Linked DNA regions of Homo sapiens. The protein of the gene in region 2 purifies or fractionates together with the protein of the main gene of each other region. This does not show direct contact. Each region holds a gene or a part of one and is shown on either strand. Other genes may lie near its edges.

The links. Proteins that work in one complex are often made in the same cells at the same time.
Region 1: the proteins of SMIM5 (region 2) and TPST2 purify together in Homo sapiens (affinity purification with mass spectrometry; one large-scale study listed by BioGRID and IntAct). This does not show direct contact.
Region 3: the proteins of SMIM5 (region 2) and SIDT2 purify together in Homo sapiens (affinity purification with mass spectrometry; one large-scale study listed by BioGRID and IntAct). This does not show direct contact.
Region 4: the proteins of SMIM5 (region 2) and FRMD5 purify together in Homo sapiens (affinity purification with mass spectrometry; one large-scale study listed by BioGRID and IntAct). This does not show direct contact.

Annotation. Positions count from the first base shown.
Region 1 is NC_000022.11:26,587,333-26,591,549, forward strand, and holds the start of TPST2 (protein-tyrosine sulfotransferase 2), read right to left. Parts: upstream 2,801-4,217; 5' UTR 2,721-2,800; intron 1-2,720. UniProt on the Homo sapiens protein: Catalyzes the O-sulfation of tyrosine residues within acidic motifs of polypeptides, using 3'-phosphoadenylyl sulfate (PAPS) as cosubstrate.
Region 2 is NC_000017.11:75,639,169-75,641,904, reverse strand, and holds the end of SMIM5 (small integral membrane protein 5), read right to left. Parts: exon of another isoform or gene 1,740-2,736; coding exon of another isoform or gene 1,704-1,739; coding exon 1,577-1,703; intron 1,115-1,576; coding exon 1,008-1,114; 3' UTR 501-1,007; downstream 1-500.
Region 3 is NC_000011.10:117,188,743-117,192,242, forward strand, and holds part of SIDT2 (SID1 transmembrane family member 2 precursor), read left to right. Parts: coding exon 1-84; intron 85-426; coding exon 427-500; intron 501-592; coding exon 593-659; intron 660-1,209; coding exon 1,210-1,283; intron 1,284-1,423; coding exon 1,424-1,547; intron 1,548-1,880; coding exon 1,881-1,998; intron 1,999-3,135; coding exon 3,136-3,272; intron 3,273-3,500.
Region 4 is NC_000015.10:43,884,272-43,887,771, forward strand, and holds part of FRMD5 (FERM domain-containing protein 5), read right to left. Parts: intron 1,485-3,500; coding exon 1,410-1,484; exon of another isoform or gene 1,397-1,409; intron 525-1,396; coding exon 456-524; intron 1-455. UniProt on the Homo sapiens protein: May be involved in regulation of cell migration. May regulate cell-matrix interactions via its interaction with ITGB5 and modifying ITGB5 cytoplasmic tail interactions such as with FERMT2 and TLN1.

The DNA of each region.
Region 1 (4,217 bases), on a different chromosome or scaffold from region 2:
TGCCTCTCCTTGCTTCGGTATTTTCACAGAGTCTTGCTCTGTCACTTAGACCGGAGTGCAGTGGTGTGATTGATCTTGGCTTACTGCAACCTCTGCCTCCTGGGTTCAAGCGATTCCCCTGCCTCAGCCTCCCAAGTAGCTGGGGTTACAGGCACGCACCACCACACCTGGCTAATTTTTGTATTTTTAGTAGAGACGGGGTTTCACCATATTGGATAGGCTGGTCTCGAACTCCTGACCTCAGGTGACCTGCCCACCTTAGCTCCCAAAGTGCTGGGATTACAGGTGTGAGCCTCCGTGCCCGGCCTGAAAATAGTTTACAACTAACACATCAAAGCCAGTGATTTCAAGGGTTATGACTGCTTCAGAGAACACTAAATGTATTTAAGATTATTGGAACCCTCATACACTGGTGGTAGGAATATAAAATGGTACAGCTGTTCTGGAAAAATAGTCTGGCAGGTCCTCAACAGGTTAAACCTGGGTGCAGTGGCTCACACCTATAATCCCAGCACTTTGGGAGCCTGAGGTAGGAGGATCGCTTGAGACCAGGAGTTCAAGACCAGCCTGGGCAACATAGTGGGACCCCTATCTCTACAAAATAAATAAATAATAAAATAAATTAAAAAAATATTTAAAGGTGAAACCTAAAGTTACCTTACGACCCAATCATTCCACTCCTAGAAATATACCTGAGAGAACTGAAAATGTATGTCCAAAGACCTGTACATGAATGTTCATAGCAGTATTATTCATAATAGTCAAAAGTTAGAAACAACCCAAACATCCATCAGCTGACAAATGGATAGAATGTGGTATATCCACATAATAGAATATTATGCAGCCATAAAAAGGAACGAAGTACTTAAAAAAAAAAAAAGGAATGAAGTACTGATACAGGCTGCAAGGGGCTGAACCTTAGAAACATTCTCTGAAGTGAAAAGCATCAGATACCAAAGGCCACATAGTATATGACTGCATTTATATGAAATGTCCAGCACAGGCAAATTCATAGAGAATTTGAGAGTCAGTAAGTGGTTGCCAAGGGATAGGGGAAGAAAGGATTGGGGAGTGACCATGAAACAGCCTTTCTTTTGGGCATGATAAAAATGTTCTAAAATTAGACAGTGGTGATGACTATGCAACTCTGAACATCCTAAAAATTACGGAAACATATACTTTAAAAGGGTGAATTGTACGGCATGTGAACTGTATCTCAACAAAGCTGTTATAAAAAAAGTTTGCATGAGATTTTTAAAAATCAGGTGATACAAAGATGTATATTAAGTAAACAACAGTACAATTGGGGTTCAGTGGGGTGGGGGGATTCAGAAATGACCCAACAGTTCCTTTAGGACAATGAAATAAACCCAGCTTTACAGTTATGGAAACTGAGACTAGATCGGAAGGAAAATGCGTCGCCCGGGCCACATCACTACTAAATCCGGTGTGTCACAGATCTGTTCAAATCCAGAAGCCTACCCTCGCCAGCAGACCACCCTGCTGAGATGAAAGGGTTATCACATGGAGGCTAGGGAGAGGTGTCCACCCACAGCCCAGTCTGGCAGACAGACATGCAAGGGAATGTCTGTTGGGAAGTGAGAAAAAGGGCTGGCTAACTCTGTGGGGTTCAAAACAGGAAGCACCCAACAATACCAGGAGAATGCCAGGGAAGGCTTCCCGGAGGAGGTGCTGCTTGAGGGGGCTTCTGTAGGATAAGTAGGAGTTCAACAGCCCGCCTCCTCAACATCCCCAAGGACATTAAGTCAGGAGGCCTGTGAGTGAGTTTCAGCTCTGCCACATCCTAGCTGTGAATCCTAGGGTCACGGGCAGGTGACCTCTCCAAGCCTCAGTCTCCCCATCTGTAAAAGGGGAAGGGGGCAAGAGGTTAGGCACGGTTCTTTCTAATGACTCTGCTGAGGTGGATGGTTCCTTCCCTAGGGAACGGGCCTTTGAGTGGGAATGCCAGACCTCGACCTCTGTCCCATCTAACAACGACTCTGCCAGGTCAGGCGTGCTCAGCCTCTGAGCCCATGCTCCCAGTCCCCTGCTACCAGTCCCAGTCCCGGCTTTCCGGGCACCTCCCATCCAGCTCACACCGAGAAGCGGAGTTTACGGAGGGAGGTTGGGGGTTGGGGTGGGATCCTCGGGTCAAATTCCTCTCCACTCCTCACCAGTGACCTCCAAGTTCACTAGGGCTCCCCAACCCAGTGCTCCCAGCGCCCACCTCCCCAGCCGACGATTTCCGCCCCCAACGCCTCCACTTCTGACGCTCCTCGCAACTCCACGGCTGCTGCAAGTTAACTTCCACGCGCCCTGGCGCCCGCCTGGGGGTCCCCGCGCGCCTGGGCGAGGTTGGGGACTCCGGAGGCGGGGACGCGCCGCCCTCCCCCCCAGTCCCCCCGCCAACAGACGCTGAGCGTCTCCCAGGCGCTGGGTCCGAAGCGGGAAGCGTGGTAACGGGGGCCCGGTGGATGCCGCACCCCGCGGAAAGCGCTCGGGACGCCGAGCGGGTGCGGATCCCAGAACCGCGCGCCCGCGCCGCCTGCCTGCCTCCCAGATCCCAGCTCCCAGCCCCGGAGCCCGAGCAGTCGCGCCGGGCCCGGAGGCAGCCGCCAGGACGGAGGGCTGCCAGGCGCCCGAGGCCGACCCGCACGGCCCCCAGCCCGCGCCCCCGGTTGCAACCCGAGGCCACCCCCTGCCGCCCCAGGGCCACCTACCGTGGCGAGACGCGGCGAGGCAGCCCCACGCACCCAGCGACTCCCGGCTCTCCAGCCGCCCCAGCCGGGGAAGGGGGAGGTGCCCGCGCGGGGGCGGGGCCGCGGCGACGTGACGTACGGGGGCGGGCCCGATACGCGGCCCCGCCCCGCCCCGCCCCATCCCCTCCACTGCGCCTCGGGACCGCGAGGTGAGCAGAGGCTGGTCGGGAAGTTTCCCGGAGGCTCGCCCCGGGAACCCCGCCCCGCCGCCCTGGAAGCCCCTGTCTGCTCGCTGGCTTACCCCTAGGACGGGCAGCTCACCACTTCTCCCGGTCAGTTCTGTTTAAGAGAAGTTCCTTTCTGCCTGTAAGCAATGAAGTGGAATGATCACCAAAAAGTGGTGTAAGAAAAGAAAAGTAGACCCGCAGCGGGGTGTATTCGTGCTACTGTTTGTGTAAAACACAGAAAAAAGAAAGGGGTGGTCTGATGTATAGTCATACACACCAGTGGTTTTGGAGGGAGTTTTTGTGGATATACCACATTCTCTCCATTTATCAGGGATTTTGCCCTGACATCCCTCCACCACCACGACATTTGGCAATCTCTGAAGACATTTTTGGTTGTCATAACTGGGGAAGTGGAGAGGCGATACTGGCATCTAGTGAGTAGAGGCCTGGAATGCTGCTAAACATTCTGCGGTGCATAGGACACCCTTTCCACCCCCAGCCCTGCCACTACCCCCCCAAAAAAAACCCTGCAAAAAATGCCGAATAGCGTAAAGGTTGTGAAGCCCTGATATACACAAATGAAACAAAACTCCTGACTGATAAATCTTAGCACAGTCTAAGTTCTATAACCTTTCAGTGCTTCTGCTTCTTCATGTGTAAAATTGGAAAAATAATAGAGCTATCTATGCATCGTATGCTTGTGCATTGAATACCTGAAGAAAAGGTAGGGTAGGCATGCAGGCTTACTTTTCATTGTGAACTTTGGTTCTTTGTTCTCTTTTAACTTTCTATTTGCCATATGTATATATTATCTGTTTAAAATAAATTTCTGGGTCAGGTGCATGGCTCACACCTGTGATTCTAGCACTTTGGGAGGCGAGGCGGGCGGATCACTTGAGGCTAGGAGTTCAAGACCAGCCTGGCCAAAATGGTGAAACCTCGTTTCTAATAAAAATACGAAAATGACTTTGGGAGGCCAAGGTGGGTGGATCACATGAGGTCAGGAGTTCGAGACCAGCCAGGCCAACATGGCGAAACCCTGTCTCTACTAAAAATACAAAAATTAGCCGGGTGTGGTGGTACATGCCTGTAGTCCCAGCTACTCAGGAGGCTGAGACAGGAGAATCGCTTGAACCTGGGAGGCAAGGGTTGCAGTGAGCTGAGATTGCACTGCACTCCAGCCTGGGCAACAAGTGAGACTCTGTCTCAAAAAAAAAAAAAAAAATGCAATCCCAGCACTTTGGGAGGCCGATGCGGGTGGATCACCAGGTCAGGAATCCAAGACCAGCCT
Region 2 (2,736 bases):
GGGAGTTCGGCTTAGGGAAGTTGAGTCACGCAGCTGACAGGGTGAGGGTGTGAGCCCAGACAGCACACAAATGGGGGAGGGCCACAGGGTCAGGAGGCAGGTTACAGGTGACATTAGGGCCTTCCTCTGGCAGTTTGTGAAGACCCACTGGTCTGAGTCTGCTAGTGTGGGATGTGCAGGCCAAAGGTGCAGGCAGTTGACAGAGTAAAGTGCTGTTCCTGAGCTTAGCTCCTGCCTTTGGGCAAACACAGTCTCTGCCACTCTGCAGAGTAGTGCCTCAGCCTGGCAGAGCTCATTAGCAGCTAATGCATGACAGGAATTTCATGGCACCGTCCACTGGTCCCGTGGTGTTAACCGCCTGTGTGGCATGCTTCTCTGCGTGGTTTTCCAGCTTTCGTGGGCACAGGGAGAGCAGAGGCCTGGGAAGGACGGGCACCAGCCATACCCCCTCCCAATGTACAGAGCCCAGCCCAACCTCAGGGAGTCCGGCACCGCAGAAACACGTAACACAAAAGCTTTTACTTGGAAACTGGCAAATACTGGACTAGAATACTGACATGCTCACGCTCTGGCGGGAGCTCGGATGCAGAAGCTATTGCACAAAGCCCCTCTGATTGCCTTGCTCCTCTTTGGCATGTATCAGCAGAGCCCCAAGGGCCAATTGCCCACAGGTGGGGACTGTTCTCCATCAAGGTATGGGGACCCCTACTTCCTTGTTTTGTTAAAAAGTGCAGGTAGGCGAAGAAGCCCAGGCAGTTGACCCAGTCTTTGAAACAGCTGACTCCCCAGCACCCAGTGTCCACTGGCAGATGAGAGGTTTGCACCTATACCAGCCCTTGTTTCCTTGGTAGGGCTCAAGTTGTCAGTGTCCAGGTACCTGGGCTGGGCCAGAGCTGGGGCCAGGGGAGCCTGGTCTTGAGGGGTAAGGGCTGCAGGGCCAGGCTGATGGCCTGTGTCATGGCATTGGCCATCTCCTCTCCAGCTTCTCCTCAGCCATCGCCCGTCCGTCATGGTGGTGTCGGCTGCACCTGGACCTTCCTGCCTCTCCGCTCAGGGCAGCAGCAGTGAGTGCAGCAGCAGCTGCAGGCTATCAGCAGCAACAGCAGAACAGTAGCTGGAGGGCCGGGAGAGAGCACGGGACTCAGGTTGGGGGAGAGAAAGGATGCCCACCCTCCTCCCAGAGAAACCCACTGCCTGCCAGGGTCTTTCCCCCACAGGTTTGGTGGAGGTCAGAAAGATCCGAGAGGCTGGTGAGAGGTGCGGACGGTCCCCATGCCAGCCGCCAGGGCCAACCTCCTCCATGTTGTGTCTTCTCTTTCACTGCCCAAGCCTGGCTCCCGTCATCCCCGCGTTTGGGATCCCGGGGTACTGCTGGGCCCAGTCCCCAGCACCGCCCATCACCCAAGCAGCATATCAGAGGATGAGGGAAGTCCCTTGGCTTCCCCCAAGGGACAACTGGTTTTCCTCCTTGATCCGGCAGACACCCGCCACCTCTGCCAGCCCTCTGGCTGGCACCATGGTGTGGTCTCTCCCAGATGCCAGGGAGAGCCATGGGGTGCTGAGTGCCCCAACTAACCTGTGAAAAGGATGATGACTGAGAAGGCCACGATCTCCACGGGCTCAGCCTGGGGCAGTCTCTGCAGCTTGAGCAGCAGCCTCTCGCCCACGGCGCGCATCTCCTGCACGAAGTCGGTGGCAGCCATGCCGCGCTGGCTTCCTGTTGGGGCTCCTGCCGGGCTCTGCTGGGGCAGAGAGAACACCTGGAGCCTCCACGGCTGGCCCCACACTCGTCGCAGCACCGAGATTCCACCCTCGCACCCATCCGCAGCCCGCAGAACAAGTTTGTCAGGTCTCACACATTGCACCCCTGGTGACTTCCACCTAGTGGTGGCCCTCAGTCCCCACCCAGCTGACACAGCTCAGGGTGGAGGAAGCCGGTGAGGACAGTGAGACCAAGGGCTTGCTTCGGGGGCTGCCGGCCAAGGCGGCGGCTGGTGGTGGTTTCTGGCTTCGCTGTTCCATTCCCTTGTCTTGAGGTACCACTACTGGGTTTTGCCTGGGTGCTTGGGACTGGCACAGCTCCCTCGGGGTGGGGAGACTGGGATAGGATGCCAAGCTGGTACTCTTGCCTTCCATCAATGTGGGGACAGAAGGAGCAGGTTCTCCCGAGAGCAGGTTCATGGGGCTTCTGGCCAGGGTCAGTCAGAGGTGAAAACTGCCCCCCTGTCCCCCAGGCCCCCCAACCTCTCCCACCAGCCCAGTTTCTACACTCATGCCTGTTCTGCCAGAGGGGGAGGCCGCACCGTGTCCCTCCAGGTTTTGCCAGGGTTTCTGTCCTGTCTGTTGGGAGGGGGTCAGGAGGCCCAGGTTGCTCAAGCCAGCCCCTCCCCTGCTGGCGTCATCTGTTTCTCTAGCCTGACCAGGAAAGTCCTCTCCACTCCCACCCCTGCCCCAGGAGAGCCTCTTCCTGTCTCAGGGTGCCCAAGAGGCCCAAGGTGCCACTCCAGAAGGCTTTCCCCTTCTGCCTCTCCTGTGGGCATGAGGGAGCTGGTGCCTCTTTAGAGAGGAGCCAGAGACAACCTTGTCCCAACCCAGCCTGATCCAGTTCACCAAGGCAGTTGCTCTAATCCAGGGGTGGTGGTGGGGACAGGTGGCCAGGGGCTGGTGCCAGACCTTTGGCTGTAATTATCGTTGCCTTGTCCCAGGTCTCAGCCGGTTCTCGCTGAGATGGCTACG
Region 3 (3,500 bases), on a different chromosome or scaffold from region 2:
GTGGACTCCATGAGCTCTGTGGAGGAGGATGACTACGACACATTGACCGACATCGATTCCGACAAGAATGTCATTCGCACCAAGGTCTGACCCGTGGGCCTGGCCTGGTCAGGCGTTTCCTGAGAAAGGGACATTCTGCGTTCCCGCCCCAGCATGTTCCCACTGACGTGGCATTTAGGGAAGCAGAAGGAAGGGGCTCAGCTGGGGCAGGGCAGATGCCGGGGAAACTAACCTGACCTCCAACCCCTTCCGGCCTGATTGGCCAAACCCTCTTGGTCTAAGCGGCCGCAGCAGTGGGATGTCCTTGAACCCTGCCCCCCTGAATTCGGCCCTGTGTGAGGGAGGCCCCTCTTGTCCACCTCTAACCTGGGGGAGGGGGCTTCTCCCAAGTAGCAGTAAGTGGGGCTGATTCCAGCTTCTCCCCAGCAATACCTCTATGTGGCTGACCTGGCACGGAAGGACAAGCGTGTTCTGCGGAAAAAGTACCAGATCTACTTCTGGTGAGTGGGCTGAGTGTCTGGGGCTCTGCTGTTGGTGGGTGTGTGGCAGCCTTGGGTGCCACCCACCTCACTGCCGCCCTCCTGCTCCGCAGGAACATTGCCACCATTGCTGTCTTCTATGCCCTTCCTGTGGTGCAGCTGGTGATCACCTACCAGACGGTGAGAGGGCAGGGCAGGTTCACCTTTCCGACAGCCTAGGACACCGCCCCAAAGTGCAGAGCCTCCCAGCCTGGGGCCCTGGTGTTCCATCACAGGACCTGGGTTCAGATCCCAGCTCTGCCTTCCCAGCCGAGTGACCCAGGGCAAATCACATAACCCCCCCAACCCTGAGTGTCAGTTTCTTCATCTGCAAAATGGGAGCAGCCCGCACTAAAGATAGCCCCTCCCTGGTTTCTTGTGCGGATTATGAAACCAAAGTCCTGGGGCTTTGTAAGCATCAGTTTCCCTTCCCTTTTCTCTGTCCCGTGGGGCAAGAACTTCCATCACGGTCATGCCTCAGGGTTTTCAGCCACGCCTAATGAGAGGGGACAGCGACTGTGCTGCATGGCATCCATGTTCTCAGAAGGAACACGTGCCTGCGGTGCTGTGTATTCCCACCTGCTAGCTGTGGTGGCACTTGCTGTTTTTTGCCAAAGGGGCCCGGATGGCGGGGCGTGGGCTGAGTTGGGCGTGACGACAGACCCACTCCCTGTCCCTGCTCCTGCTACAGGTGGTGAATGTCACAGGGAATCAGGACATCTGCTACTACAACTTCCTCTGCGCCCACCCACTGGGCAATCTCAGGTGGGGGTCATGCTGGGAGGCCCCTTGTCCAGGCCAAGGGTGAAATGGGGCAGGGCCTGGGGCTTTGCAATGCCCACGTGGGCTAGGGAAGAGGCCTGGGTGTGAGTCCCAAGCAGTCTGCCTTGTGTTGCCCCTTCTAGCGCCTTCAACAACATCCTCAGCAACCTGGGGTACATCCTGCTGGGGCTGCTTTTCCTGCTCATCATCCTGCAACGGGAGATCAACCACAACCGGGCCCTGCTGCGCAATGACCTCTGTGCCCTGGTAAGGGAGCACCTGCCTGCCTGCCGCAGCCTCAGCTCCAGCACAGACCTCAAGCCTTGGCTCCAGGACACCCTTTTGGGCAGGCCTGGCCCTGCCTTCCCCAGCTCTCCCCTCCCCAGTTCTGTCTGGCCCACCCTATCCAGCCCAGCCTGCCCCACCCTGCCCTGCCCTCCCTTGCCAGCCTGCCCAGGCCAGCCCACCCCTGCACACCCACACTCGACACATACCCCACCCCTTTTCCTCTTCCACTCCTCTTAGGGTCCCTCTTTTGGGTCCCTTCTTCCCTTCCTGCCTCACTTCCTCCCTCCCTTCCCTTCTCTCTCTCCCCAACAGGAATGTGGGATCCCCAAACACTTTGGGCTTTTCTACGCCATGGGCACAGCCCTGATGATGGAGGGGCTGCTCAGTGCTTGCTATCATGTGTGCCCCAACTATACCAATTTCCAGTTTGGTGAGTGGGGCGTCCTTCTTTTCTGGCTCAACCTACAGCAGGGACCTGCCTGAGTCCTTCACTATCCCCAAGTCACCCACAGGGATCGCTAAGACACCCCTGTAGGAAACTCCAAGGCTGGCGTGCCTGGGTGTGCACACATCCTAGCCTATGGAACATGGGCACCTAGATGCTGCTTCATTCATCTGTCAAGCTATTCCTATGTAAAGGCATGTGCCGCAGTGAAGAAAACAGTATAATTAAGAAGGGGTCCCTGGCCGGGTGCAGTGGCTCACGCCTGTAATCCCAGCACTTTGGGAGGCCGAGGCAGATGGATCACGAGGTCAGGAGCTCCAGACCATCCTGGCTAACATGGTGAAACCCCGTCTCTACTAAAAATACAAAAAATTAGCCGGGCACAGTGGCAGGCGCCTGTAGTCCCAGCTGCTCGGGAGGCTGAGGCAGGAGAATGGCATGAATCCGGGAGGCAGAGTTTGCAATGAGCCAAGATCACGCCCTGCGCTCTAGCCTGGGCAACAGAGCGAGACTCCGTCTCAAAAAAAAAAAAAAGAAGGGGGCCCTGGCTGGGCACTGTGGCTCATGCCTGTAATCCTAGCACTTTGGGAGGCTGAGGCGGGGGGATCGCCCAAGGTGGGGAGTTTGAGATCAGCCGGGCCAACATGGTGAAACCCCATCTCTACTAAAAATGCAAAGATTAGCTGGGTGTGGTGGTGCATGCCTGTAATCTCAGCTACTCAGGGGGCTGAGGCAGGAGAATTGCTTGAGCCCAGGAAGCGGAGGTTGCAGTGAGCCGAGATCCCACCATTGCACGCCAGCCTGGGCGACAGAGTGAGACTCCGTCTCCAAAAAAATAAAAGGGAGTCCCTGATCTCAGGGTGCTCACAGACTAAGACACAGACCAAGTTGTCCCTGTTTTCAGGAGATGTCAGACTCTGGGTGACAGCCAGTGGGGTGGCAGTGTGGTGTGGCAGGTACAACTAAGGAACTGAAGTTCAAGTGCCACCCTGCCACCAGCTCACACCATGGCCGTGGTGGGGCACCAGGGCTCTCTCTTCCTCTGGGATTGTTGGGGCCAGGAGTTCTCTGCTGGGGCTTGGTGGCCATTTCTGCAGCTCCCTTCCGTGTCCCTCATCCTAGACACATCGTTCATGTACATGATCGCCGGACTCTGCATGCTGAAGCTCTACCAGAAGCGGCACCCGGACATCAACGCCAGCGCCTACAGTGCCTACGCCTGCCTGGCCATTGTCATCTTCTTCTCTGTGCTGGGCGTGGTGAGGGCCTGACCTGCTCTGCTCAGCCTGTATGATAGGAAAGGTGCACGTGCGTTCAGACACGTAGTGCACACCCTCCGCCACCTCCTGCATGAGAGATTCCTGCTCCTTCCCTGAGATGCCTTCCTGGGCCCCTCTCAGAGTCCCAGCCTGGCTGAGCAGCCAGCCCCAGGAAGGGTGGGCCATCCGAGCCACTTCCCTCTCCACCCTCACCGCTGCCCTTGGTGG
Region 4 (3,500 bases), on a different chromosome or scaffold from region 2:
TATTCTTTCTGGGTCTTAGATTCTAGGAGATAGGCTTCTGGAAACACAATTTGTGGATCTACATGAAGCATGGATCCTGAAATTATTTTAGAGCCAGTGTGGCAGGGCTGTGGGACTATCCTTGGCTTCATATGATCGACTGGTTCCAGAACCACTGAAATTGTGTGACACATCTATGATCAGTGTCAAGACTAGGGAGGGCAGAAGAGAATTGCCAAGTGAAGTGGCACCTGGATCTGATGTACTATCTGCAGTAGCCCTTCCTCCCTCCCCAGCTCTCTTATTAAGGGTCAAAGACTTCTCCCCATCCCTCTGAGAAGTTTCTTCAGCCTTCTGCTCCATTTTGGACTTTTTGGTAGCCACTGGAGCCAGGGGCTTCACAGTACTCAAACTGCTGGATTGAGATTCTGGGATCTGAGCTACAACTGTTTGGGGGGAAGCCCCTGGCAGCCTACCTGTGTATTTCCGGTGGCTCCCGTTTGATCTTAGCACTTGATTCCATGACTTCCTTTGCAACTCGGCCACTGTAAGTAGTGTAATAAAAACAAGCAGCAAGAAATGAGACTGTGTTGTAGGACAGCTCCTCTCCAAGATCTTAGGTGCTTTCCCTGAATCAGGAAATGGCATCTGTGGCCCACCCTTTCCCTGATGTTTTGGTCATGGAGAAAGGCTTGCTTGGTGGGGTAGACTTCTAAACTGTCATGACAGCCTATCTGAGAGAACTCTCTCCATCTCTAGAGTCTTTAGGATCTTCCATTCTCATTTAGGAGTAATTCCTCATTTTCCAGCATGTTCCAATTACATCACAAAAAAACACATAAGAACAACCTTTAGACAGTGAGACATGAATCACTGTTATAGTTCTTATTTTGCTATTGTAAGGGAAAGAGAAGATACATATTTATTTTTCATTTTCTTGGAGACAGGGTCTTGCTCTGTCTCCTGGGCTGGAGTGCAGTGGTGCAATCATGGCTCACTGCAGCCTCGACCTCCTGAGCTTAAGCAATTCTCCCACCTCAGCCTCCCAAGTAGCTGGGACTACAGGTGTGTGCCACCACACCCAGATAATTTTTTTTGTATTTTTAGTAGAGATGGGGTTTCATCATGTTGCCCAGGCTGATTTCAAACTCCTGGCCTCAAGTGATCCACCTGCCTCAGCCTCCCAGAGTGCTGGGATTATAGGCATGAGCCACTATGGCCGGCCAATATACATTTAAAACCCTACAGACAAATTGCTGTAGGGAAGGAAGGAAATAGTAAAAGGGTCATAAGATGGGAGAATTAGATGGAGACCTCAGACTTTTCTGAGTCCTCCCTGGTTTCTCTGTTCTAAAGGATAAGGACCACTGAGTTCTCCAGAGAAGGGTCTGAAAATAGATCCATAATGGTTACTTACTGTCACTATTTACCTGTATCGGAACCGGCTCCCTTTAAAGAATAAATTGCTGCTGGACACTGTGCGGACTTGGCTTGACTTCTCCAGCCTGTAGCAAGGCAAAGTCCAGTGTGATAGACAGCCTGAACTGCCTCACACAGGTTAAGGCAGCACATCCCCAGCTTCTTCCAAAGGCTACTTGAAACTTCAGGAAAAAAGCCCTTCATAGTCCACATTTGTCTCTGACTCTCATTTAGGATCTGGGGGCTGTGCTCACAGCCAGCTGCTCTCCTGCCTCAGTGCCCAGGACTGTCAACATGGAAACCCATTTTAGTGTCAGGAGAGTGAAGGCTCCCCCAAAATGCTTCATAGGTTTTACCAGGGGGACTGAGAGAATACATGCTCGGGTGGATGGTCTTGGGGAATAATAGAATGCCCATCTAATCTCAGCCACGTCACTTATTAGCAGTGTGACCTCGGGCAAATTTCCTTCTCTCTTAGCCTCACCCTTTTTATAAAATGATAGAGCTGGGACTACTGGACCTTAGGGGTCTCCTTTCCAGTCCCAGTATTTGATTTTGTGTCTATGTCTGGGTAATTGTGGGTGGAGAAGAGGGTGGGGGCTGTCTTTCCTGTTCCATCTCCCTTTTGGAGGGTCCTAAAATACATGACCACAGTAAAGACAGAAATCCTGCGATGAAGAAACTAGCTTAACTTTAATAAAAGTCCGTCATGTATTTGAATTTGGAGCCTTTCTCCCTCCCCCAGGATATCTATTTTATATCTCGTTTGAAGCTGCAGACAGCCGATGTGGAGCTCTGTAATACTTTCTCCTGGGTGACTTCACTGAGCCCATTAGCTCTCTCAGCTTGGGCACAGCAGCTCAGAGAGAAGCCTCCTAAGATGGGATCCACCTGTAACATGCCCAGGTGCCTATGGTACTGATCCAACCAGTAACCTATGTGAGTCTGAAACCTGTGCTATGAGCAGTGAGTAGGAGCTGTTTCCACAATCCATGAACAGTTCTTGGGAGACACCATCCCTGCCCGTCTCAGGGCTCCAGGACATCCGAGCTGCTTACTGGAGCCTGGGCATGTTCTTGCATCTGACTGGGCTCCTGCCATGGCACTAGGCCAAAGGCAGGACTAGGGATCTGTATGTGAGAGACACTGAGGGCAAGGCCAAAGCGCTGCTGCCAGAGACTTGACATACCTGGGGATCTCACCCAGGCTTTTACCGTTTGATGAGAACATTAAGGAGGCAATGGAAAACTGAAAAATGACCTCCATTTCCAGTGTGGGTGCAGGCAGGGCTGGGTGGGTAGGGAGATCTACTCGTGGGAAGACTCAGAAACTGAGTGAGGTCACAGGTTCAGAAGCAACACTTCTGTTTCCGTGACACAGATGGGAAAACCAAGCCCTTAAGAAATGCTGCTGAAGGCATGAAAAGACAAGAGGCAAGGAGATTGCTTCTGTTTGCTTCTTCTCTACCCTTTGGTAGAGAGAAAGGGAAAGCTTCCACATATGCCATTCCCAGGGCAGGGATAGTTCAGTGTGGAGCAGGCCCCTGTCGGCTAGTGCCTTCCTCTCTCTGCTGCGGAGACCCGTGGGACCCCAGTTCTTGGGCTGCTCCTCAGTCCCACAGGCAGGAGCTTGCATCTCAAGTTGCTTCTCTCTAGGTTCAGGTAACTGGCCAAACCTGGATTACATCCTCACAGGCAAAGGGAGGGTGGTAGCAAAAGAAAATAAATGTTTTCTTGACTTTCTATGGACAGTAGGGACTGAACAGGAGGGAAGTGTGACCATGCCAAAGTCTCCCGAGTATATTCAGGAGAAGAAAGGCTGCCGATTCAGTGAATCCTTGGTTCTGGTATAAACACATAATGGGAATTAAGTAATTCAGAATGCCTGTCTAAGAAACAGCTTCTGGGGCTGTGGCCCTGGCAACTGGGAGGACCCAGTTCTGCCAGCCAGCATCCCATAGCAGCCAGCAGGCAGCAGAATCTTCCCTGGAGAGAAGTATGGTGCCACTCATCCCAGAGCAGTTCTCATCTCTCCAGGATCCTTCAGGTTACTGGAACTGGGACCTGGCCAATCAGGGGCATTTGGTGAGAGCAGGGCTCACC